Linked DNA regions of Homo sapiens. The protein of the gene in region 4 binds, or shares a complex with, the protein of the main gene of each other region. Each region holds a gene or a part of one and is shown on either strand. Other genes may lie near its edges.

Region 1 (7,259 bases), on a different chromosome or scaffold from region 4:
CTAATTGGAAGAAGCATTTTGTATTTACAGTTCAACTGATAATGCCAACACTTGTTACTGTACAGCGTATTACAGGTTTCGTGGTTGCAAGAAGTTACGTAATTTAAGTTTACTGGCATTGCTACCCACCTAAGTCTAAAACTAAATCTAATGCTCCCATTTGCAATTTAATTTGTAAATTAAAGTCTTTTAAACATATGAACCAATTATGAATATTAGTTTAAAGGGGAAGGTGAGACTTAAAAGTATTCCCAACTAGATTATCTACACCAATACATTGGAACTCTATATTTTGCTTTCATTTTGTCTTAAAAAAATGAAATAGCAACGCTCTATCAGTCACACAGAGGACATGCAGATTTAGCAGTATTGATATTATACTCTATCTTGTTGGATTTAAAAACACCCTGTACCCACATGTACACCAACAGCAGGTCACACATTAACAGTTGTAACTAAGCACTGTGACAAATTAGCCAGTTCTTCCCACATTAGTCCCTATTAAAACAAAAATGGGGGGAAGGGAGCAAAATAAGTTGCTACAAAATGGGCAATATAATTTTGCCACAATTGCCAAGGTTTAAAAAGCAAAGCAATTGTAGCTAAAGACAACTGAATAAAATGTTTGCAAGTGTTTTAAGGAAAATGTATATAATCATTTTTAACCCCTGCCTTTTAGTATAAGGTCAATACTGCCAATTTCATCTGTGACAATAGCACTTGGAGTCATACCATTGCCTCCATTATTGATCTGATCCTCCTCAATCCTCCTTTTGACAATCCTAAAATGATTGAAATGTGCTCCACAATCCTTAATCCAAAGCATTCTTAATCCATCTCTTCAGATATGTCTACAGAAAGACACATGAAAAGCAAGATAAACATAAGAACTTCCCCAGGTAAGATAACCACAAACACCCCCAACATCCCAGTTCACACAAACCAGGGCAGATAGACATTTACACAATATCACAGTCTGAAGAGTATGGAGTTAACTAAATTTAAACAATCCTGTCTATGACATCACTTAAAATACAATTTATCAAAGACACGAAGGGAATGTAGATGTTAGGAGCAAGGGGATATTACAAGAATGCAATTCAACACTTTAGCCCATTCTGAACAAAACAGTTTGAATTAAAAAATGAAAAGATTGTACTGAATAAAGGAAAACTGTATACAACATGGGTTCTACAAAAAGTGTCACCAATCATCTTATGTACGAGAGCGAGATCTGCTATGACGGGGAGAATAGCGTGGTGATCCTCTGCTTCTCCTTGGGGAGTAACTGCGACTCCTGCTGTTGCTTCTGCTACGGCTTCTGCTACGACTACGGCTTCGAGATCGAGATCTTCCATAACTTGGACTTCTGGGCCCATCAACTTTAACCCGGATGTAGGCAGTTTCTCCCTATTGGATAGACAGAACTTTCCATTGAAAGATCTAAGCTTTCATCTATCTTCAGACATGCTGAATGAATACAATGTAACTAAAACCAGAAATCTGGCAATTTACTTGGACAACCTTGCCTGAATCCTTACCTTGAAATTCCACTGTTAAGACCACTGTATCCAATTCTGGTCAAAGAAAAGAATACGTGTATAACCTACCTCATGAGATCTAAACTTAGTGTTATCCAGTTTTCGAACTGCATAGGTCATATCTTCTTTCCGTACAAACTCCACGACACCAGTGCCATCTCGGTAAACATCAGCATAACATACATCACCTGCTTCACGCATGTGATCCTTTAAATCCTGCCAACTTCCACTTGGAGGCAGTCCTGAAAAAGTGATTTTTTTTTTCTTAGTACCAATTATCTTAAATTTCACGTTAAGCTGGTAAGGTACATTAGGACAAAGAGTACTTTAAAGTACTTAATAGGTGTACTTAAGTGATACCAGGTAAAGAGAGCTGGTAAGATTCTGGAATCCAGAGTCCAAAATTATTTGTAACGATCTTCGTATCTAGTACCGCAACCTAATTTGGTAAATCACCACAGCAGCAATCCTCGTTTATTAAATTCACCCAAAAACTAAAGCAATTTAAGACCTAGCATGAAAAATTTGCAATTATTAAACCTGTCACGCAAGAGAAAAATTTTAGGTAGTTTTCGTCCCTTCACATCAATCCACACAACCAGTACACTCACCAGAGACAACCACTCTGTTTTCAGACCGCCTGGATGGGGGGCCATAGCGACCTCGGGGAGCTCCGCCACCTCCACCCCCGCCGCCGCCTCGGCCTGTTCCACGGCCGCTTCGAGGAAACTCCACCCGCAGACGGTACCCATCGTAATCATAGCCGTCGCGACCATACACCGCGTCTTCCGCGTCTCTGCGGGATCGCAGAAAGTAAAAGGGATGAGAAACACCAGGAGGAGAAGCTCGCTCAGTTGGGAACCAGCAAACCCCCCGCACATGCGCACCCAACGTGGAAGAGCCCACATGCGCCGCATAATAGGAATGGCCCCTCCCCCACCCAGAAACACGCCAGGCTCCCAACCACTACACCAGCCCTCAGCGCCTCAGTTTCCCGCTCCAGCCTGCGAATGGGCTCCGGGGACGTCCAAGGCGAGGCGCCAGAGAAGCCACATCAACTCAGCTCCTTACTCGACTCCTGCATGGGCGATACAGTCTCGCCCCAACCTCTCTAAGAGCCCCCGCTTCCCCGTTCTCTATGTTAAGGCCTTGGAGCCTTCCCCAACTACTCGGACCTATTTCCTCAAGGCTGCAAGCCCCATGCCGCCTCACCGCGGGTCCTCGAACTCAACGAAGGCGAAGGGCGGTCCCCCGCGGCGATTCTTGAGGTCGATGTCGCGGATAGCGCCGTATTTGTAGAACACGTCCTCAATGTCCTTGGTTCGGATGTCTGGAGGTAAGTTACCCACGTAGATGCGGCAATCGTTGTTCCCTGCGGGGCCACGAATCACACCACCTCCCGACATGGCGGTGACGAAAAGCGCGGACTCGAGAACAGGCCTTCCCACCAAGCCTAGCGCACGGCAGAGCGAGCCCGCAGCGGCACCACGTCTCCCGCGGCCCCTCCAAAATGGCGCCTTTATCAGCTCGGCGCACGGATATGGGGGGGAGACAGAGGAAGAGAAGCGGAAGGAAACAGCGATTCGATCCCAACACGCACGCGCGGGAGCGCAACGGGTGCTGCGAGGGCTACGTTCAGCGCACGCGCACGCACGCGCGACGTCACCCTCCCCACGAAGGGGGTAAAAAAGTCCCCCGCGTTCCCAGCTTGGGGTGGTTTGCGAACAGAGTGACCAGCCGTTTGGTAAAAGTTAAATAACGAACTTTCGTTAAAGGAGCTAGTCATCCAGGTCGGGTCTTGAAGGATGGTCGATTTCTCCAGGAATGAGGATCTTTGAAAGCAACTCGGCGCCTTCAAAGCACTTGGTGAAACCTAGCCTAAAGCGTTGTCCCACCATGCTCTGCGGCGATAACGGCCTTTGGCGGGAAAGAGTCTCGGAGGCGGGGCCAAAGGGGGACGGCCCGGGCGGTTGCTCCGGAAACCCGGGTATCTTCGTAGGGTGCGTCTAATCCAGAGCTGAGTTGCGGGTGATTGAACGGAGAGCTGGGGCGTTGGTTTGTCTTCCCGCCCCTGCTGCGAATAGACCGTGGCTGCTTAGACAGATGTGTCTAATTTAGCGAAACCGATTTAGATTCCTTAATCCTCTTCATTAAGTACCGTTCCGCCTTCTCGTCAGAACTTTGCATAGCTCGGGTCAGCACTCCTAGTGCTAGTCGCAGTGGGTCCGTATCCCGACCGGCAACGTGGTACCCGCCAACCAGAAGGGGTAACACCGTACCGCCTATGGGACCCACACCTTTTTATCTCTTGTTAGTCGCCTGTCCGTGGGACTAGCGCAGAATGCCTGCAGAATGAATCGTTTCTGTTGTTTCCTTTCAAAGAACGAGAAGGAAGAAAGGGTGCGTGTGTGCAGTCCTTTTTTCAAAAGTTTTCCCTAAAAGTTACTGATACACCAGGTTTTGAAAATACCGGTCCTCTCAGGTAATAAAATGGAGCAAAATGGATGTGAGAACCGTAACCACTAGATACCGCGGTTGCTATTCAGGACTGTGATCCTGTTTGCCTGCGGCATTGGGAGATAACATTTTACATTTTTTTTCGACGTCTGAAATCTGGATTTTTATGTGAAATCCTGGGATTTTTAAACGTCGCTAATGAATTAAAATTCAAATCAGGCTGGGCGCGGTGGCTCACGCCAGCACTTTGGGAGGCCGAGGCGGTTGGATCACTTGAGGTCAGGAATTCGAGACCAGCCTGGCCAACATGGTGAAATCCCGTCTCTACTGAAAAAACAAAAAATTAGCCGGGCTTGGTGGCAGGCGCCTGTAATCCACTCTACGCGGGAGGCTGAGGCAGGAGAATCGCTAGAACCCTGGAGGCGGAGGTTGCAGTGAGCTGAGATGGCGCCATTGCACTGCAGCCTGGGCTACAGAGTGAGACTCCTCCAAAAAAAAAAAAAAGGAGGGGGAAACAACAACAAATTAAAATCAAACCCTGCAGTCATAAATTTGCCATAACAGATCTACACACTGAATTTAAGGGATAATTTTCTTCATGTTATTTATTTACAGTAGTCCCTTTCCGCAAGGATGTGAGGCAACTTACAGAGATACCATAAAACATGAAAACTAGATGAGGCTGGGCGTGGTGGCTCACTCCTGTAATCCCAGCACTTTGGGAGGCCGAGGCGGGCGGATCACCTGAGGTCAGGAGTCGGAGACCAACATGTCGAAACCCGTATCTTCTAAAAATACAAAACATTAGCTGGGTATGGTGGCGCGTGCCTGTAATCCCAGCTACTCGGTAGGGTGAGACAGGACAATCTCTTGAACCCTTAGGAGGTGGAGGCTGCAGTGAGCGGAAATCACGCCACTGCACTCCAGCCTGGGTGACAGAACAAGACTCCATCTCACACACACACAAAAAAAATGCTAGAGTAAGAAATCAGAGGAATGGGAAAATGAGGGGTGGATTAAATGAAATACGCATAAATTACTATACAAAATGCCTGCAGTGAAAGCCCGTTGAATTTGTTGAGATAGATTGCAAATTTTACTTTAGTCTTCCCAGAAGTCACGGTAAAGAAGGGTACAGAAGTATTGTGTATTCAAAATCCAAAGTGCCTTTGGGATAAAAGTAAATAGGTCATTCAGGAGAAGGACATGTTTTCTTAATTCTAAAAGCTGATGAAATATATTTTACAAATGTTTCTCGGTGACCCCAAAATACAAATTCAATTTGAAATGAGCAGGGATGCTTGGTCTTGTGGCCGTAGATCCTCGGTATATCTACAGATGACCTTTGGTAATCCTTGAGCTTTCTGTAATATTTTCGAAAATTATATGCATGTGTGCATGTACAAAATTATATGCATGTGTGTACTTTTTTCTGGGAAGAGGATTTGGAATTTTAATCAACTTCTTAAAGGAGTCCATAGATCCCAAAAGGAAAAAGAACTTCTGAAATTTGTCAAGGGAAGGATAGATTGCCTATTCTTCAGACCATCCTTTAAGTATATATATAGATGTGTGTTTGTGTGTGTGTGTGTATATATATATATATATATATATATATTTTTTTTTTTTTTTTGAGACAGAGTTGCCCTCTGTCACCCAGGCTGGAGTGCAATGGCATGATCTCAGCTCAGTGCAACCTCTGCTTCCCTGGCCTAAGTCATTCTTGTGCCTCAGCCTTCCGAGTAGCTGGAATTACAGACATGTGCCACGATGCCCAGCTAATTTTTGTATTTTTGGTAGCTGGGATTACAGGCATGAGCCACCACGTCCAGCTAATTTTTGTATTTTTAGTAGAGACGGGGTTTCGTCATGTTGGCCATGCTGGTCTCGAACTCCTGGCCTCAAGTGATCCTCCGGCCTTGGCCTCCCAAAGTAGTGGGATTACAGGCATGAGCCCCTGCACCTGGCCGGCTTTTTTTTTTTTTTTTTTTTTTTTTTTTGAGACAGGGTCTTGCTCTTTCACTCAGGCTGGAATGCAGTGGTGCAATCACAGCTCACTGCAGCCTCGACCTCCTGGACCCAAGCGATTCTCCCACCTCAGTGTCCTTCGTAGCTGAGACTACAGGTATGCATCACCACTTCAGACTGATTTTTGTATTTTTTGTAGCGATGGGGTCTCGCCATGTTGCCCAGGCTGCTTTTGAACTCCTGAAGTCAAGCGATCCTTCCATCTCGGCCTCCCAAAGTGGGGGGATTACAGGCATGAGCCATTGTGCCTGGCCAGAGCCTGATATGTTTTTAAATGAGAAGGTGACCAAAAAAGATACTATTTCAACAAATCTACTGTTTCTAGCATTGTTCCATTAAGTGAATGGCAGAAAAGAGGAGAGTTTTTAAAAACTTGCAGCCTGTTGATTCTTTCATTCAACAGTTATTTGCTGAACACATTTTCTTTCTGTTCTTTTATACATCAGTTTAAATTTATGCAGGCAAAGCTTCTGTTAATCATAAGTCAATGATAACTGAAGTGATAACTGAAATCAGTAGTTTATAATTGGATAGTTCATTTTAAGAAGGGATGAGACAATACACATAGGTACTTTTAATTTCAAGGTAATTTCATTCCAGAAAAATATAATTGAATTTGCTTTTTGTTTGTTTGTTTGAGGTGGAGTCTCGCTCTGTCACCCAGGCTGAAGTACAGTGGCAGGATCTCGGCTTACTGCAATATCCTCCACCCAGGTTCAAGTGATTCTCGTGCCTCAGCCTCCTGAGTAGCTGGGACTACAGGCATATGCCACCACGCCTGGCTAATTTTTATATTTTTAGTAGAGATGGGGTTTCATCATGTTGGCTAGGCTGGTCTTGAACTCCTGACCTCAAGTGATCTGCCCACCTTGGCTTCCCAAACTGCTGGGATTACAGGCATGAGCCACCACACCCAACCTGAATTTGCTTTGATTTATTCTTGTCTAATTTAATGCAGTAATTTCTGATTTTGTTCAGTTCAGCACAGTACAAAGTAAAACTTAATTGAGAGTGAATAGGACATTCTTATTTCTGTTGGCATCTTTTTTTGTATTTGAATGTAACCAACTGTTCTGGAGTTGATGATGAGGTCAGTATATGGCAGGAAAAGTCTTGACGGCTGTTTTATCAGGTCTTGCAGGATGGCGTTAGCTTTGTGATGATTACAATTAAGGATGTTACCAGTTATCCAGAGTTAACATATTTCAGTCCACAAGAGTAAAACATCAAAAA
Region 2 (7,446 bases), on a different chromosome or scaffold from region 4:
GCTCTGGGTCATCTTCCCGACCTGAAACAGGCCAAGATATGAAGGCCCTGAGCCAGGAAAACCTACTAAGGGATCCCTGATCCCAAGTCCCCTCAGAGTGACCCAAGACTTCATCTTGGGTTTTTCTGTTTGTTTTTTTGTGGGTATTTTTTTTTCTTTTTTTGAGACGGAGTCTCACCCTGTCACCCAGGCTGGAGTGCGATGGCACAATCTTGGCTCACTGCAACCTCTGCCTCCCAGGTTCAGGCAACCCTCCTGCCTCAGTCTCCCCAGCAGCTGGGATTACAGGCATATGCCACCAGGTCCAGCTAATTTGTTTTGTATTTTTAGTAGAAACAGGGTTTCACCATGTTGGCCAGGCTGGTCTCAAACTCCTGACCTCAGGTGATCTGTCTGCCTGCCTCGGCCTCCCAAAGTGCTGGGATTACAGGTACGAGCCACCGTGACCAGCCCATCCTGGTTGTTTTGTTTGTTTTTGTTTTTTGGAGATAGAGTCTCGCTCTATCACCCAGGCTGGAGTGCAGTGGTGTGATCTTGGCTCACTGCAACCCTCACCTCCCCGGTTCAAGCGATTCTCCTGCCTCAGCCTCTTGAGTAGCTGGGACTACAGGCGCATGCCACCATGCCCGACTAATTTTTGTATTTTTAGTAGAGACAGGGTTTCACCATGTTGGCCAGGCTAGTGTCAAACTCCTGACCTCAGGTGATCCACCTGCCTTGGCCTCCCAAAGTGTTGGGATTACAGGCATGAGCCACTGCGCCCGGCCTCATTCTGGTCTTAATTGAAGCTGCTGACAAAAGAACAGACACCTCCCCATGACTAAGCCACCATCAGGGAAGTCCCCAGGACCCCCAAGGCCCAGCTGGTGCTCTGCAGTGCTGTCCCTGGACCCCCACCCTCCATTCCTGGCCCTGTCTACAGAATGGGCCCTGACTCCCTATCCCAGCTCTACCCTGTCACTCCCTCTGCCAGGGCCAGGCGGGGAGCACGACAGATGGGCTGGACAGAGGGTGGTGCCTGGCATCCGTGTGCAGAGCTCCCTGCTCCACCCAGAGACCGGGGATCCTGCTGCTCCTGCACCTTCTGTCCTTACTCAGGACAGCCTCATGCTCCCCCAGGCCAGACTCCTGGGGTGAAGGAGCACAGGGAACTCACCCTGAATCCCTGTGTAGCACAAACAGAAGGAGGGGTGCTACCCTACCCTCACAGAGCCACAGAGATGCAGAGGGCCCCGGGACTGGGGGGAGACTACAGGGCCACCTCTGGAGGGAGTGCCAGAGCAAACATGGGAGCCAAGCAGCCCAGATGTGGTGGGTGGGGAGACTCAAATTTAGCAGGATTGAGGGTCAGAACTTGTTCTCCCAGGAGGAACCTTGGTCAGAAGGTCCTTGTGTTTATGCTGAAAAGCCTGACAGGGCAGCTCAGCCAAGAGCTGGGCAGGGGCTGGCTTGGCTGTGCTCAACTACCCTCTCAGCTGGGACTTGAGTCCCTTAGCGAATGTTCTGTGCCCAGTCCTCTGCTGGGCGCTGGTGGACCCCAGAATGGGGGTAGGGTGGGGACAGGGGACAGCTGGGAGCAGACATTGCGGATAGGATGGGGCAAGACTGGGGGAAATGCCTTCCCAGACACGCTGCGGCTCACACTGTCGCCTGATCTAAGGCCTGGATCACCTGCTTAGGAGCTGACCGGCCACTGGCATGGCACACCGGGCAAGAGAGCGCTGACTGCCCCCCTGCATTCAGCACCATCCCAGCTCCAATAGAGTGAGTACAAGATAGGTAACACCTGCCTTGTTTGGACCAGACCTCTAAACACCGCCCAGATCCCAGAGTAAAGGCAGATAAGGCAGTAGTTAAGAAGTAGGAAGAAGTAAAGGCAGCTACCCCAGAGAAGCTAAGGTCGGGAGAGGTGGAGGCTCCCACTGCACCCCCCTGGCCCATACCATAGGGGAGGTTTCCCCCACAGCAGCCTGGGTACTCACCTGAGGTTATTAGACAGCAGCATTAAGAGCCTACTCTAAAAAATACCCACGGGGCACCTTTCTTTTCCTTATTTCTAAATATGCCTGGATGTAGGGAAAGGGAGCTGAAGTCCTTTAGTTCCATTTTAAGTATGTTACATTACACATAGCTAAGAAACGGTGAAATATTGTAAGCAGCCAATATTTAATTATTTAAAAATTAAAATAGGCTGGAGCTCTCAGGCCACCTGCCCAGGGCGACTCCCCAGCAAACCGAGCAGTCTCCCTCAGAGTGGAGATGACATGTCTCCGCACCGGCACCGAGGGGGCGCAGGGCGGCGTGGGGAGGGGGACCCAGGCCGGGGGTCCGGGTGGCGCGCCCTCTCTCACCCCCGAGGCGGCAGGAGCAGCGCGGCGCGAGGACACCTCCGGGCCGTCGGTGCCCCTGAGCTTCCCGGCGGCGCGCTGCCCCAGGAAAGTTCCCGGCCTGCCGCCCCTCGGGCTGTTGGAAAGTTTCGGCGGCTGCAGGGCCCTGGCAGCTAGGCGCCAAGCGTCGCGCGGGGCGGGCACGGCTGCGGGGTCGGGCCGCGCTCGGCTGGAGTGCTCAGTGCAAGACGCCCGGACGGGTAGGGTAGGGCCCCAAGGCCACGCACAAAGAGACCCGCCCCCGCCGGCCCGGGGTCTCGGACGCCGCAGAGCGCGCGGACAAGACGCGGGTGGGGCGGAGATTGGCTCCGACGTCCGGCCCAGACCCTCGCCCGGATCTCGACTCCAGGGATAGGACCCTGTCCGGACCGCTGCCCGGAATGCGTCCCATATCTGCAGCCCCGCCCCCAGTCCCGGCTCCGACCCGAGGCCCCAGCCCCGGGTCCCACACCCCGCCCACTGGCTCAGGCTTACCTGGAGCGCAGCGTGGGCGGCCCCGCAGCGCGGCCTCGGACCCCAGAAGGGCTTCCCCGGGTCCGTTGGCGCGCGGGGAGCGGCGTTCCCAGGGCGCGGCGCGGTGCGGCGCGGCGCGGGTCGCAGTCCACGCGGCCGCAACTCGGACCGGTGCGGGGGCCGCCCCCTCCCTCCAGGCCCAGCGCGCAACCCGAGACCCCGGGCCAGCCCTCCCGCCCTCACGCGGCCCGTGCGCAAAGCGGACCGGGCCGGCGACGCGAATCTCCGCCCCGCCCCATCTGACAGCAAATTTTCCCATTGGTCGAGAGACCCGGCGCGGCACGGCAACCGGCGCCGATTGGGCGGATGCGCGGAGATGACGGCTTGCCATTGGGCCTCCGGGATGTCAGTCCCGGCGGATGACCGGCCCCCTCGCGGAGGGGCCGCGGCCCCGCACCTGCCCGAACCTCTGCGGCGGCGGTGGCAGGGTACGCGGGACCGCTCCCTCCCAGCCGACTTACGAGAACATCCCCCGACCATCCAGCCCCGAGCAGGGACTGGCAGAGCCGGCGCCCCTTCCCCGGACTCTGGCCGCGTAGCCTCCGCCACCACTCCCAGTTCACAGGTATCCTTCTTCAGCGCCTGCTACTCGCTGCGCGCTGCGCGCCGCTCCCTCCTGTCGACATCGAATTGTATTCTTCACGCAAGCCGCGAGAGAGAGTTCTGCTGCTATCCCCATTTTACAGTTGGGAAACAGCCTCAGAGAGGTTCTCACTTGCTTGAACACAGTCGTCTGACCCTGGGGCCTGGGGGCTCTCTCATCCTCACGCCCCTGGGTCCCCGCAGCGGGGAGACGATGGAGGTAGGAGCTGCAGTATTTCCGAGGGCAGGAAGGGACCCCCTCGGTAAACCAGGGGCTCACCTCCCCCACCAGGCCTGGATGTAGAGACCTCTTGGGCTTGTCCCACCCTGCAGGCCCCCCATGGGGCCGCCCTTTCTTACCTCCTCCTGGCATTCTCACAGCCCCACAGCTCTGCGTCTGGGGAGGCAGAGTTGTGCGTTTATGCCCGCACCCCGTACTACTGTCCCATTTTCTTCACCCTACCTGGAGTCAGGAAGAAACGGTGCTTCACTGCCTGTTGAGATTCACGTAGGTTACATTTCCTTGCCAGATTAAGAGCACCTGACATGAGTGGGACCATGACCCTCCGCCAGCTCTGCGTAACCTTGTGGTGTAGGGGGGAACCAGCAGGGATGCTGCCCAGTGGGCTTTTCTAGGGGGAGGTCCTGAGATGACTTCTTAGCCAGTGACCCTGGCTCACGCATGCTGTCATCCTTTCCTGCCCTGGATGCACCTGGAGATGACCAGTTCCTCGGCTCATTGCATTCTCCAAGGCCGCCTGGGGAACCAAACTGCCCACAACCATGCTTATGAGTGGTGGAGGGGTGTGACCAGACACTCTTGTCTTATCCACCCATATTGGGAGTCCAGTGTGTTCATCCAATCATTCCTTGGCCAGGACAAAGAAAATGAAATGGCCCAAGGCAAGAACTCACTGCTGGGACCACCGCTGGGTCCATCTGTGTGCTGGCAGCATGGTGAATCGATCCCAGCTGCCTTTCAGAGCCAGGCAGCTACTATCAATCGATTGGAGCTGGCACTTGACGTGCCAATTGGCCTCCTGGCATAGGGTTGTTGCTTGCTGCTCTGGGAGGGCAGAATGAAGTAGCTGTCCCTAGAATAGGGGCCCTCACAAACCAGGTAGCTGTCATCCTGTGGAGCAGCACCATGGTGACATTCTGGCTCAGGTGCTGTGTAGCTGAGGGGTCGTTTCCTCCATTTAGGAGTAGACGTAATGAGTCCAGCTGTCCCCAGCCATCTCTTCAAGGCCATTGGACCCTGGTTCTGCTGGAGCCCCTCTTCTCACAGTTACCTCATAGTCCTGCACCACCCCCTCCCCACACTTGCAAGAGGGACTGGACAGACCTCTGTTGAAAGAGTGCAAAAGACAGAACCATACACCAAAATCTGTGCAAGTGAGACTACCTCTCCTCTCATCACCACCCCTACCACCCATAGGGTTGCAGAGACCTGTCTGCCCTCGGCAGGCAGGATCATTAGCTGAGGTCAGAGGATGTCGGGGCAGCACCAATTCAAACAGGACTCAGGACCGCTGTCCAGCAGTCGGCCCATTAGGCTGCAGCCAGGGGTCAGAAACACAACAAGGGAGGCTGGGCGCAGTGGCTCATGCCTGTAATCCCAGCACTTTGGGAGGCCAAGGCAGGCAAATCACCAGAGGTCAGGAGTTCGAGACCAGCCTGGCCAACATAGCAAAACCCCATCTCTACTAAAAGAATACAAAAAAAAGTAGCGGGGCATGGTGGTAGACGCCCATAGTCCCAGCTACTTGGGAGGCTGAGGCAGGAGATCGCTTGAACCTGGGAGGCGGAGGTTGCAGTGAGCTGAAATTGCACCACCGCACGGCAGCCTAGGAGACAGAGCGAGACTCCATCTCAAAAAAAAGGAAAAAAGAAAAAGATAAGAAAAACACAGCAAGGGAGACCACAGGGACCAGTAGCCCAGTGTTCTCCCTCTCTCATCCTCTCACCTAGCTCCATGCGGACAGCTGTGAGGCCCCCGGAGAAAGCCACAGAGAGAAAATGCTTTCAGCTGGGTGTCAAGAACTTTTCAAGAGTGGCAGCTGTTGAAATCAAAAGAGTGGCCACAGAAGGTAGTGAGCTTCCTATCTGAGTTTGTGTGCAATTAGAGGTTGGATGCCAGTGAGCCTGTTGCAGCCCCAAGATCCCAGGGCTTAGGTGCCCATCCTAGACCCATTTCATCTGCCGTCACCTGCTTCCTGGCATCGCATGTCATCCAGACTGGAGTGTCAGTGGTGACAAAGAAGATCAGAGTGTCTGCTCTGGCTCTGTCTAGCTGGGAAAAGTATGGCTGGGGGTGGGGATGGCCCAAGGCCACAAGGTATGACAGAACAGGATGCAAACCACCATCTGACATGTTACTGCATCCCTCTTTGTGGGCAAAGGGAAACCTTGGTCAACTCATGTCCAGCTTTGAGGTGCATGGCCTGGTGCTTTGGGGAAGCCCATTCTCCAGGTGCTGCCATGAACCCCAGGGCACAGTCCATCACCCCCAAGCCCCAGATCCCACTTGTCCACCACCACCACCTCTTGGCCCTATAGATTGCATAGGTTTGGCTGCTCAGAGGGAAATCACTGGTACCAGCCCCACATGATCCCACTGCTGGATGGTGGGAGAGACAACCATGTCTGGCTGGGTCTGCGGCCCGCTGGCCATGAGTCCCTGGGCATCTGGAGTCCTTGTAAAAGGTTCTGTTGGGTTCCAGGGGAAACACAGATAAGATAGCAAAAGTGTGGAGCACAACGGGCCCGCATGTAGGTCCAGGTTAGACTCTTGCCGTTGCTGATTACCAGCCAGGCTCTTCCCATCCCTGAGCCCCAGTTTTCTGCAGGGCATCAGGGCACCTAGGTCTTCAACACAGGTTGAAGCTAATGTGGCCTCTCTTGCTTGCCACCTTTTTCAACTTCAACTGAATGACATAACTGCTCCAAGTCTCAGTGTTTACATCTATAAAGTGGGATGAAAGAACTGCTGACCCAGACATTGGGTTTAGAGTGCTTTACACATTATCATTATCCCTAATGTCTTTGTCATCCATGTCATAGTTTTTTGAATGCTCACTTTGAGGCAGGGCCTGAGCCTCTGGGCTTTGACTCTCCACCTTTCTGCCACATAGGCCCAGGCACAGCCCAGAGGCTACAGGAGCAGCGGTCCCAGCTAATGCCTCTGTCCTGTTGGGAGGGCCCCAGTCAGTGCCCACCTGCTCACCCTGCACAAGTCAAGCTGGGCCAGCCCCTCGTCGCTGGGGCCTGGACCTGGATGTGAGCTCAAAGGCTACACTGGGGGGTGGAAGTGGGGGAGGTGGTGGGTGTGCAGGGTATAGTGCTCAAATGCCTAGTCCAGGGTCTGGGGGTACATACTGGGAATGGCAGGGACATCAGGGAGGAAAGAGCCGACCTGGAGGCCATAAAGTGAAGGAAGGGATGACCAAGAGGAAGATGGCCAGGTCCAGAGGTGGGGTTGAGTGAACAGGATGGGGAGACCAGGACGCAGTCTGAGGGGGCCAGTCCGGAAGTGAGCATTCCTGTACCTCTTCCGAGAGAGGCCGCAGGGTGAGCAGGTGACAGATGGTGTCCATGAGGGCATGGACTCAGGGGCGGCTGCGACCTCCCATGGCGTCCCTGCAGGCAGGGAGCCGCGGAGTCCCCGAAGGCCGCTGGATCAGGAAGCGCTCAGACGCCCGCGCAGCCCGAAGCTTTGGCGCAGCCCCGGGGGCGGGGCGCCAGGAGGTGGCAGCCTCCGAGCGACAGCGCGCCCAGCCAACGGGACGCCGGCATGCGGCGCGCCGCCCCGCCCCTCGCTGCGCGGCCCAATGGTGAACGCGCCGGCTTCGGGCTGGGCGGTACTGGGCTGGCTGCGGTGGCGCGCGGGCGCGGCACCCGGAAGTCGGCGGCGGTGGCGGAGGCGGTGAGTGCGCGGCTCCGGGGCTGGCCGACTCCGCTAGTG
Region 3 (5,632 bases), on a different chromosome or scaffold from region 4:
AAACCAAGGGGCCCTGACATGTCTTAAACCCTCCTGGTGTCAGAGAAAACCACGTACGTGCAATTTCTTCCAGGGGCCCCTTCTATGGGTTCATCAAAACAATGAGACTTGTGACTGTTATTATTAAGAGACTCATGATTAAATTGCAGGTTTCTGATTTTGCAGTTTCTATTTAAATAGGTCGAGACCTTAAGACCTACCCAGAAAGTGGAAAAGTGGTATACCCAGACTGAGGAAGTTTGATTCCAAAGTCCATGATTTCTTATACCAGCCTCAGTTACGAAAACCTTTAAAGAGGTTCAGGGAAAAAGGAACAATCTACATTTCACTGTGAGACTACCAAACTACTACCTGATTAAGAGGGGTAACAGCTTAGCAATTGAGTTAATGTAATTCAGGAGTAAAGTTTTATCATTAGTAAAGTGCTGTACCAGGTTCAGGAAATAGTTCTTCTTTACAAGTGTATACAAGGGTTTAAAAAAAGGCCAGCTAGATAGTAATTAACTGCAAAGCTGGGTACTACTGCCAGGTGTTTTCCACATTCAGGAACTCACACCAGGTAAAAGGCCTATACGCAAATAAATAAAAAGAGAGAATGGGGAGAAAAATCACATTTATTAGTTAAGACGACCACAGGCTGGACACAACACACATGCTAAAAAGTGGACTGTCTTTTAAAACTTCCAAGGTAAATAGGTAAATGTTTTCCACAGCCCAACAATCATTTCAGTGTTTACAAATTAAAAGGCCCACGGTTAAGACATTAAACAGTAAAATATGTAATAAATGCTCCAACCTACCCTCTCCCCCGAAAGCTGCTTCTAAGTTTAAAACCATGAATTTGACTAACCATGCCATTGAAAACCATCCAGGTTACTACAGGCTGAATTAGTTTTCAATGTCTAAGTCCTAGAAATATCACTCCCTATCCCAGCCCTAGCAAATTCTAACTTTACATTTGACATAAGGCATTAACATCAATTAAAGCCTCAGTTTAATAATCAGAATTTAAATGAAGTCTCCTGAAGACCTCTCTTCTGGCAAAAAAAAACACGTATCAGACTCTGGGAAAACATTCAGACCCACTTCTAGCTATTACTGAAATAAATGATTAGAAAGTTACGTTGGTGAGCCGAAGTTAAACCTAAAGCTATCCCCTGGATCTTTCTAGCAATAAACCCATGTTGAACCTACCATGAAAACTTTCATTCACTGTGCTTTTGGTTACGTTGCCTCCTGATTAGTCATTAATTTTAATGAGGTTTTTTCCTTGTGTTGAGTATGAATAGACCTTACAGTTTGAGGATCTCTAGAATTCCCTGAATTATTGGAAAGACATTCATGACTCCCAGTGTGACTAGTTAAGAGCCCCAGGGAGCCTGTGAAGACTAGAATCTACAAGTAACCTGCACTAAGAACGAAATTCAGTAAAGGAGACTCAAGCTTAGCTCCTGGCCATCTTAAAGGGCTAATGTATGTCTTTCACAGGTTTGTTCAACATTTCAGTAATTCACAGTATAGCCAAGAGCATGAGTATAAGTCTCTTGAAAAAGCCAGTTATTTGGAGCTTTTTAAATTATAAACTTTGAAAAAGTCACCCACGTTCTCACACTATATAGATGACTTTGTATCTATTTTACTATTTTCTCATTTAACCATACTAGCAAATAAGGAAAAAGGCTATTAAATGACTCCCCTGATGCTGGAAGCTGACAAAGCTTTTATGCAATTTAGCCTGTAACTAAAAATTCACCTGTATCAATTCATTCTGACTCCTGCAATATGAATAGCTCATTATAAAGAAGGGCCTTCTGATTCCCCCTGCCTCCCAAATTAAATAAAAAGGAACAGTCATTTGTTTTCATGGAAAAAAAAAACCAAACAAAAACAAAAAAAAAACCAGACCATCTTAAGCAAAGTTTTACATGACATTATATAAAATAAAGTACAATTTCCACTTAATTCAGTCTTCAAATATTTTTTATTGGAAGGCCATGCATTGCCTTCATTTATTGTATTTCAAATCACTGTACATTTACTTTTGTGAAAACACTGCCTGCATTTTCTAGTACAAAAAAAACCTAAAAATTGTTTCAGGAATGTAGAGAAATATCCAACTTAAATAGCGAAAAAGTGCACCATAATTACTGCTGCACTGCAGTCATTTCTGCAATTCCCATGTTTCTTAAATAACTATCTTGTCAGATAACACACAATATAAAGAGCAATTATGAAAAACAGACATTTACATATACTTCTAAAGTCTTATTGGGAATATCCTGTTGGCATTGGATAACCAATCATAGGTGCAGCTGCAGTAGCAGGATATGCATATGCCTGTTGGTTCATACCATTGTGCATATTTGGAACATTACTTCCGTATTGCTGAGTGCTATCATAACCATTCTGGTAAGTCCCTGTTGGATTACCAGTCCTAAAACTGGTCTGTATACCAGCAGACACAAAATTACTTCCAAAGCTCCCATTGGTGTAATTTGCAGCACTGTAAACACCATTCTGAGTTTTTGCCCCAAAATCTCTTTTAAGCAGGCTAGAGTAACCTCTGTCATAATTTTCCCTGTCTCTAAAGGTATTAAATCCACCCCTTTTGCCCGCAGAGTATCTGTCCCGACGGTCATCCTTCATGCCTCCTCTACCCCTGGAACGACCTGTCAAGAAAACAATTGCAAATTGATCAATTATGTCTATGACACAAATCATTGTGGACAGAAAGAAACAGATCTATTCATGGTAGGCGTGAAATGTTTTTACAATTTTTCAGCTTAAGTTTTCACATTCAAGGTTTTACTCACCCTCCAATACCATTTAAATGGATTTGTAGACAACGATGTGACTCGTAACTACCAACATTTCCTATCAGTCATCCTTACCTGAACCTCTGTCTTCGACCAACTGAAGCAACTTGGGATTAATTGCTTGATTAGCTTCACGAAGCACAGAGATAAGGTCGCTCACTTGCTTTATGTTATTAGGTGTAAAGAAAGTGTATGCTGTGCCTGTTTTGGTACTGCGAGCAGTTCTTCCAATTCGATGAATATAATCCTCTGAGGAGTTAGGGTAGTCATAATTGATGACAAATTTCACATCTTCCACATCTGTAAGGTGTTGCAGTGTGGCAAAATAGCAATGTACGGAGTTTTGCACACCACAACAGCCAGACCAAAAATAAAAAGTTAGACAATTGTATTCCCAAGAAGGTACGGGCTGCAAAAAATACAGTTAAAATGGTTATCCATTTCCTGTAGGAATACCATTGAGGTTGAAAAAAGAAAAAAAAGCACATGTCATCTGTATAATTCATCACCCACCCAGTGACAGACCCTGTCAAAAGGAATGTGTGTTCCCTAAGCACATTCCCAAATCAGCAAGTTCCCTTACAGATCATCAAGTGACATCTGAATGCTTCTGCGCAGTAGGGCCACTTAAAGTTTCACAGCAACCTCTTCATGTGCTCATTTTGAGGACCTTGAAACAAAAAAATGTACAAGGTCCTTTGCATTACACATTCATCAGAAGTTCAAAATTCTGGCCACACTGCTTGTCTTGCCAAGACCTTACAACCGCAGCTGCAAGAAAACATACCTGTCCCCCAAAAGTTGTTTTTATGCACTGTGTCTCGTCTAGGCAAGCGCTTCCAAGAAGCCAGGATTCACTTGAGAATGTGTCTCTCTCTGGCAGGTCTCGACATGACGACTACTGTGTAGGTGAGGGAGGAACTTTCAAAGCACTTTCTTTTCCCACTTACTATGTGTGAGAAGTTGCTCCTGCTCTAGATCTCATGTGCCAGTACTCACCAATTTGTAAAAGGCTTAGTACCTTTTAAAGCTGCTCTCTCCATTTCAAACTTGAACAAAAATTTCATTGAACATTGAAGTTTGGAACTACTTCTTCGACATTTCAGCAAACTCACTGAAACTCAAAGACCCACAGATCACAGTGAACAGTTTGAAACAAGGCTGTACCATGGCAGTCATGCAAAGCATGGGACAGAAGAAATACCACGGCAGTGAACTGTGAGGATAACTTCCATTTTTTCCCTCGGAGAGAACAGTTTACGGGGCAGAGGTGATATGTTCTGCCTTTTGAAGATTACTGGCACACGTTCAGCTTTTTCACCTCTCTAATCGACTGGAAGCAGCCAGCCGATCACTAGTCCTCCATCCCCCTCGAGTCCTCCGATTGTCATGCCTAGGCCTTGCCACAAAGACAGCACCTTTATGTGAAAAAAAACTTAGAAAAAATGCAGGTTAAAGAAAGCAATAAACTTTCTTTAAAAAAGTTAAATGGAGATCTTCTGGGAAACCAAGCCATGAATGCGAGTTTGTACTAACCTAGCCCTCTGGAGGCCACATCTGTAGCAATCAGAATAGGAGCTTTTCCATGTTTGAATTCTACAAAGGAAGGCATATACATGATCAATTATCTGAGCAGAATTCTAGCTAGGTTAAGTAAGGGGGAAAAATACTTCATTTGAAATATTTACCATTTAGAACCCAGTCACGCTCTTGTTGACTCTTGTCACCATGGATACCCATGGCAGGCCACCTAAGTTAAAAGACAAGTTGTGTTATTAAACTCACATTGAAAACCTCAGACTCCAGTGCTTGACCACTTTTGGTCACAGATCTCTTTAATTTCGCCAGAAATGAAAAAGTTAAATTCACTATCAGATATGAAAAAAATCCACTGCTCGTGATCCAAGTTTGCCCTTTCCTAAGCTGTTTTAATCAATCTGCTTCAATGGAGGAGCTCACACATACCCATCTCTCCTCATTTTTCTGGTAAGCTCATCACATCTTCTTTTGGTTTCCACAAAAACAATGGTTTTATTCTCCTTCTCACTCATGATCTCTTCCATTAGACGAATAAGTCTAATAATAGGAGAGAGAAAGGAAAAATCCTGAGTTTTAAAAGACCATTGCTAGGGCCACACATTTATGGTCAGCAAAACATTAAGTTCAATTTACATGGCTGGAAGTCAAAGAGGAAACGCCTGCTAATCCACTTATCGAGCAGTTCGACCCTTGGTCCTTAAGTCAACCAGGGGACACATGAATTCCTTCTATAGGAAAGCTATAAATGGTGACAGCCATTATTTGAAGGATTCAAGAAATTTTCAGGATTAGTAGGCTAACTAAATGAAATCACACCAACTGAAATAACCTAAAACAACTCACCAAACAATGATCCCTCAATTTTACAGCAAAGTTGTTAGGAAGCAAATATAACAGAGTTAATAAAACTTACTTTTCATCCTTTTCTACGTCATGACACACATCCACAATCTGAAGAATGTTGTGGTTTGCACTCAGTTCAAGTGCACCAATGTTTATATGAATATAGTCTTTCAGGAAATCTTCAGCAAGCTGTCTTACTTCTTTTGGCCAAGTCGCACTCCACATTAGAGTTTGCCTATCAGGCTAATGGATTTTGGGGGGAAAAATTAGTATCAGACTCTTAAGAGTGAAAACACAATTCAGTTTGATCACATATTTCAAAGGACACTTACTCTTATTTGATCCACAATCTTCCTTATTTGGGGTTCAAAGCCCATATCAAGCATTCTATCTGCTTCATCAAGGACAAGGTAGGTTGTTCTTCTCAGATTGGT
Region 4 (3,508 bases):
TATTTGCTTTCACTTCTTTGGATTTTAGAGAATACTATCTTGGTAAGTACAGTCTCCAAAAGTAGCTCAATAGTCCTGTAGACATGGTAAGTTTTTTTTAAAAAAGAATGTACAACTTTAATATTAATCAAAAAAATACAAATTAAAATAGCAATGAGATATCATTTCTCAACTAAAAAACTGGCAAAGTTCAAAAAGAATAATGTGCATCAATAAGGAGGGTATAAGGGGGAAAATAAAACACACACTCCAAGTAGAAAGATAAAGTACCAGAATCTTTCTGGTAACACAAATCAGAAGCCTTAAAAATGAGTATATCTTTGACTCAGCAATCCCATTTCTAGGGATATATCTTAGAAATAATTAATGATATATGCAACAATGAACATATAAAGATGCTAAATATCATTTATAATTTTAAAATTAAAAATCTTAACTTTGAGGGAATTGTAAAGTCAATCAGTGTGCCCATATGACAGAACATAATAAAAATCAATCAGTTCAAGATTTTTTCCAGTTTTTAAAAGGAAGATTTATTTAACAAGTTTCACTTAGTACAATACATCTAAATGGAAATCACAATACAAGGAAAGATTTAAACCAAAGCCTCAGATTTTCATACAAACGACACGACCAAACTTCTAAAGTATTGGTATTACATCTTAAAATTGTCCCGTATCCTTAAAAAAAAAAAAAGTGTACACTCACGTGCCTTACAGGATATTAAACCAAAAAGCTAGAATTAACAAACATGCCAAATGTTTTCACTTTGAATCGTAGACACAGCTCCTATATTTGAGTTTTACAGAAAGGCATGTTTCTCAACATGCATCCGAAGTTTTCAATGTATTTGTGGTATAAGAGCAACATTTAACATAAGTGAAACTGCATTAACCTAAATACGCTTACTGCTTAGGTACACTCCTACAACATAACTAACTTGAGGAAAGCTAAAAATTGTTTTAACAGTTATGGTCAATACTGAACTTTGTTATTATGTCCTAGATGAATGTTTCAGTGTTCAAAATTACTGAGCTTGAAGTTTTAAAATAATCTCAACTTCCACTTTACAGTAAGCATGAATCACAAGCCTGTAATGCAAAACTGTTAAACTTAACTCGTTTTCTTAAAAAAGGAGAAAGAAAGATAAAGAAAGAGAAGCTGACCAAGAGTGATCAGAATCAATTATATTTCCCATTTACCAATCATACTGGATATACTAAACATCCCTCCCATTCTATTCAACTCCCACAAATGTACAGCTTTTATATCTGGAGTAGCTATTTAGTGCTCCTTCTCTACCTAAGCAAGGTTTGACTGATAGTCACTGGAGTTTTCCTGCAGAACTTGGTCATATCCACTCATACTGCTCTGACCACCATAACCACCTCCATAACCACCACTCAGCTGCTGGCTAGCAGGACCTCCATAACTAGACTGGTTGGATAAGCCCATCCCTCCCATCATTTGGCTACCATAAGCGCCACCACTTGCCCCTGCTGTAGAATTCAAAAAAAGTTCTACATAGCTGTGATCGTAAGCACCCCCACTTGTTCCTGCAGTAGAATTTAAGAAGAGCTCCACATATCTGTGTTGCATATTAGCTTTGTCTTTTGCCATAGCTGCCACAGCATCTTCATGAGTAGCAAATTCAACATCTGCCTCACCGGTAACTCTGCCATCGGGTCCAATTTCAATATGTACTCTCATGGGATTAAGAGGTGAGAAGAAATTATAAATATCATTCTCAGTGGCTCTGTAAGGTAACCCCCTCATGTGTACACAGTGCCCTGTGGTGCTCTGGAAACTGGACCCACCATCTCCGTATCTATGATCAGACATTCCTGAAAAACAGTAATTGAGGTCTCTTCCAAATCTATCAGACCCAAAGCCATATCCATCATTATAGCCACCATAGTCATCATAGCCTCCATACCCTCCACCATAGGCACCACGCCTCATCCTTTCAAACCCAGCTCCTCTGCCAATGCTATTATACCCTCTGCCAGCCCCCGGCCTATCATAGGGACCTGGCCGCTGCATAGCCATGAGCTTTCGAGGGGGATCATAGTGGGTTCGAACTTCAGCTCGGCTACTCTTGAAGATCTCAATGTACCTGTGCCCTATTCTTTCCTTGTGTTTCTTTAAGGCCTTCTCAGCTATCTCCTGTGAAGCAAACTGCACAAAGGCTTCCCCTGTGCTTCGCCCCTGAAAGTCCACTGGCAGTGTCATCCCATTTGGCACAATTTCCAACCCTGAAAAGAACTGAACAATCTCTTCCTTGCTACAGCCAAATGGGAGTCCTCTAAGCCGGACGAAGCCATCGTTGGCAGTATCAGGGCTATTCGGACCTGTATGCTTCAACACCCAATCCATTTCAACACTGTTAGACTTGAATACTTCAACGTATCTGTGTCCCATGGTTTCTCTGTCCTTCTTCAAAGCCAATTTCACTTCCTCTTCAGATTCAAGTTCAACAAATGCTTCACCACTTGGTCTGCCTTCTCTGGTGTAGATGAAACGAATACCTGATGTGCCATTTTGGATCTTGCAATCAGAGAAGAAGCGCATCACTTCATCGGCTGAGCAGGACCAGGGTAGGCCCCTGACCTTCACCACGAACCCCTCCCTGCCTTCCGTGCTCAGCATCATGGTGATTGTTGGGCTCTTGGTGGCAAGTTTGGCTCAATGCAATTTTGGTGTAGCTGAAAAAAAAAAAAAGAAGACTACTGTCATGGAAAAATGCTCGTGATATAGTAAGAGAAAAAAGCAAACTATTAATAGAAAATTCAATTATGCTGACAGCTTTTCTGTAAGACGTCTGTATAAACAGAGAGTTCACCAAATTTTTAACTCATTCATTTTTTAGCAGTTATTTATTCAATGCCTATTACGTGTTAGATACCATTAAAAATTAACAGCAATCGGCCGGGTGCGGTGGCTCACGCCTGTAATCCCAGCACTTTGGGAGGCTGAGGTGGGTGTATCACCTGAGGTCAGCAGTTCGAGACCAGCCTGGTCAACATGGTGAAACCCCGTCTCTACTAAAAATACAAAAAATTGGCTGGGCGTGGTGGCAGGTGCCTGTAATCCCAGCTACTCGGGAGGCTGAGGCAGGAAAATCGCTTTTATGTACCCAGGAGGTGGAGGTGAGCCAAGATCACGCCACTGCACTCCAGCCTCAGCGACCAGAGCAAAACTCCGTCTCAAAAAAAAAAAAAAAAAAAAAAAAAAAATTAACAGCAACAAATCAGTGGGAGATGTCAACAAATAAAAGATGGCTATATCTGAATATATAAACATAAAAAACTTCACTAGATCAAAAGATTAAACAACAATTAAAACACAAACAAAACACAGGTTATGTAAGTTCTTTATATAATATCTTCATTATATAAAAATGTATGCAAATCAATAAAATCAGGGAAATATTTGGGCTCCAGAGATAAATGAAAAAAAGACATTATTGGGAATTCACACATTCATTTTAGAAACATTTTTTAGTTGC

The links.
Region 1: HNRNPH2 (region 4) and SRSF1 share a complex: the UniProt entries of both Homo sapiens proteins name them as parts of the ribonucleoprotein complex.
Region 2: HNRNPH2 (region 4) and ARVCF share a complex: the UniProt entries of both Homo sapiens proteins name them as parts of the ribonucleoprotein complex.
Region 3: HNRNPH2 (region 4) and DDX5 share a complex: the UniProt entries of both Homo sapiens proteins name them as parts of the ribonucleoprotein complex.

What each region holds. Positions count from the first base shown.
Region 1 is NC_000017.11:58,004,191-58,011,449, forward strand, and holds the start of SRSF1 (serine/arginine-rich splicing factor 1), read right to left. Parts: upstream 3,057-7,259; 5' UTR 2,948-3,056; coding exon 2,754-2,947; intron 2,338-2,753; coding exon 2,153-2,337; intron 1,784-2,152; coding exon 1,611-1,783; coding exon of another isoform or gene 1,557-1,610; exon of another isoform or gene 1,411-1,556; coding exon 1,216-1,410; 3' UTR 1-1,215. UniProt on the Homo sapiens protein: Plays a role in preventing exon skipping, ensuring the accuracy of splicing and regulating alternative splicing.
Region 2 is NC_000022.11:20,013,728-20,021,173, forward strand, and holds the start of ARVCF (splicing regulator ARVCF), read right to left. Parts: upstream 3,097-7,446; 5' UTR 2,862-3,096; intron 1-2,861. UniProt on the Homo sapiens protein: Contributes to the regulation of alternative splicing of pre-mRNAs.
Region 3 is NC_000017.11:64,497,658-64,503,289, forward strand, and holds the end of DDX5 (probable ATP-dependent RNA helicase DDX5), read right to left. Parts: coding exon 5,531-5,632; intron 5,442-5,530; coding exon 5,269-5,441; intron 4,893-5,268; coding exon 4,782-4,892; intron 4,567-4,781; coding exon 4,505-4,566; intron 4,413-4,504; coding exon 4,353-4,412; intron 3,657-4,352; exon of another isoform or gene 3,557-3,656; intron 3,183-3,556; exon of another isoform or gene 3,117-3,182; coding exon 2,892-3,116; intron 2,670-2,891; coding exon 2,266-2,669; 3' UTR 597-2,265; downstream 1-596. UniProt on the Homo sapiens protein: Involved in the alternative regulation of pre-mRNA splicing; its RNA helicase activity is necessary for increasing tau exon 10 inclusion and occurs in a RBM4-dependent manner. Binds to the tau pre-mRNA in the stem-loop region downstream of exon 10.
Region 4 is NC_000023.11:101,411,133-101,414,640, reverse strand, and holds the end of HNRNPH2 (heterogeneous nuclear ribonucleoprotein H2), read right to left. Parts: intron 2,706-3,508; coding exon of another isoform or gene 2,653-2,705; coding exon 1,303-2,652; 3' UTR 508-1,302; downstream 1-507. Other genes in the region: RPL36A-HNRNPH2 protein, read right to left, coding at 2,649-2,705. UniProt on the Homo sapiens protein: This protein is a component of the heterogeneous nuclear ribonucleoprotein (hnRNP) complexes which provide the substrate for the processing events that pre-mRNAs undergo before becoming functional, translatable mRNAs in the cytoplasm. Binds poly(RG).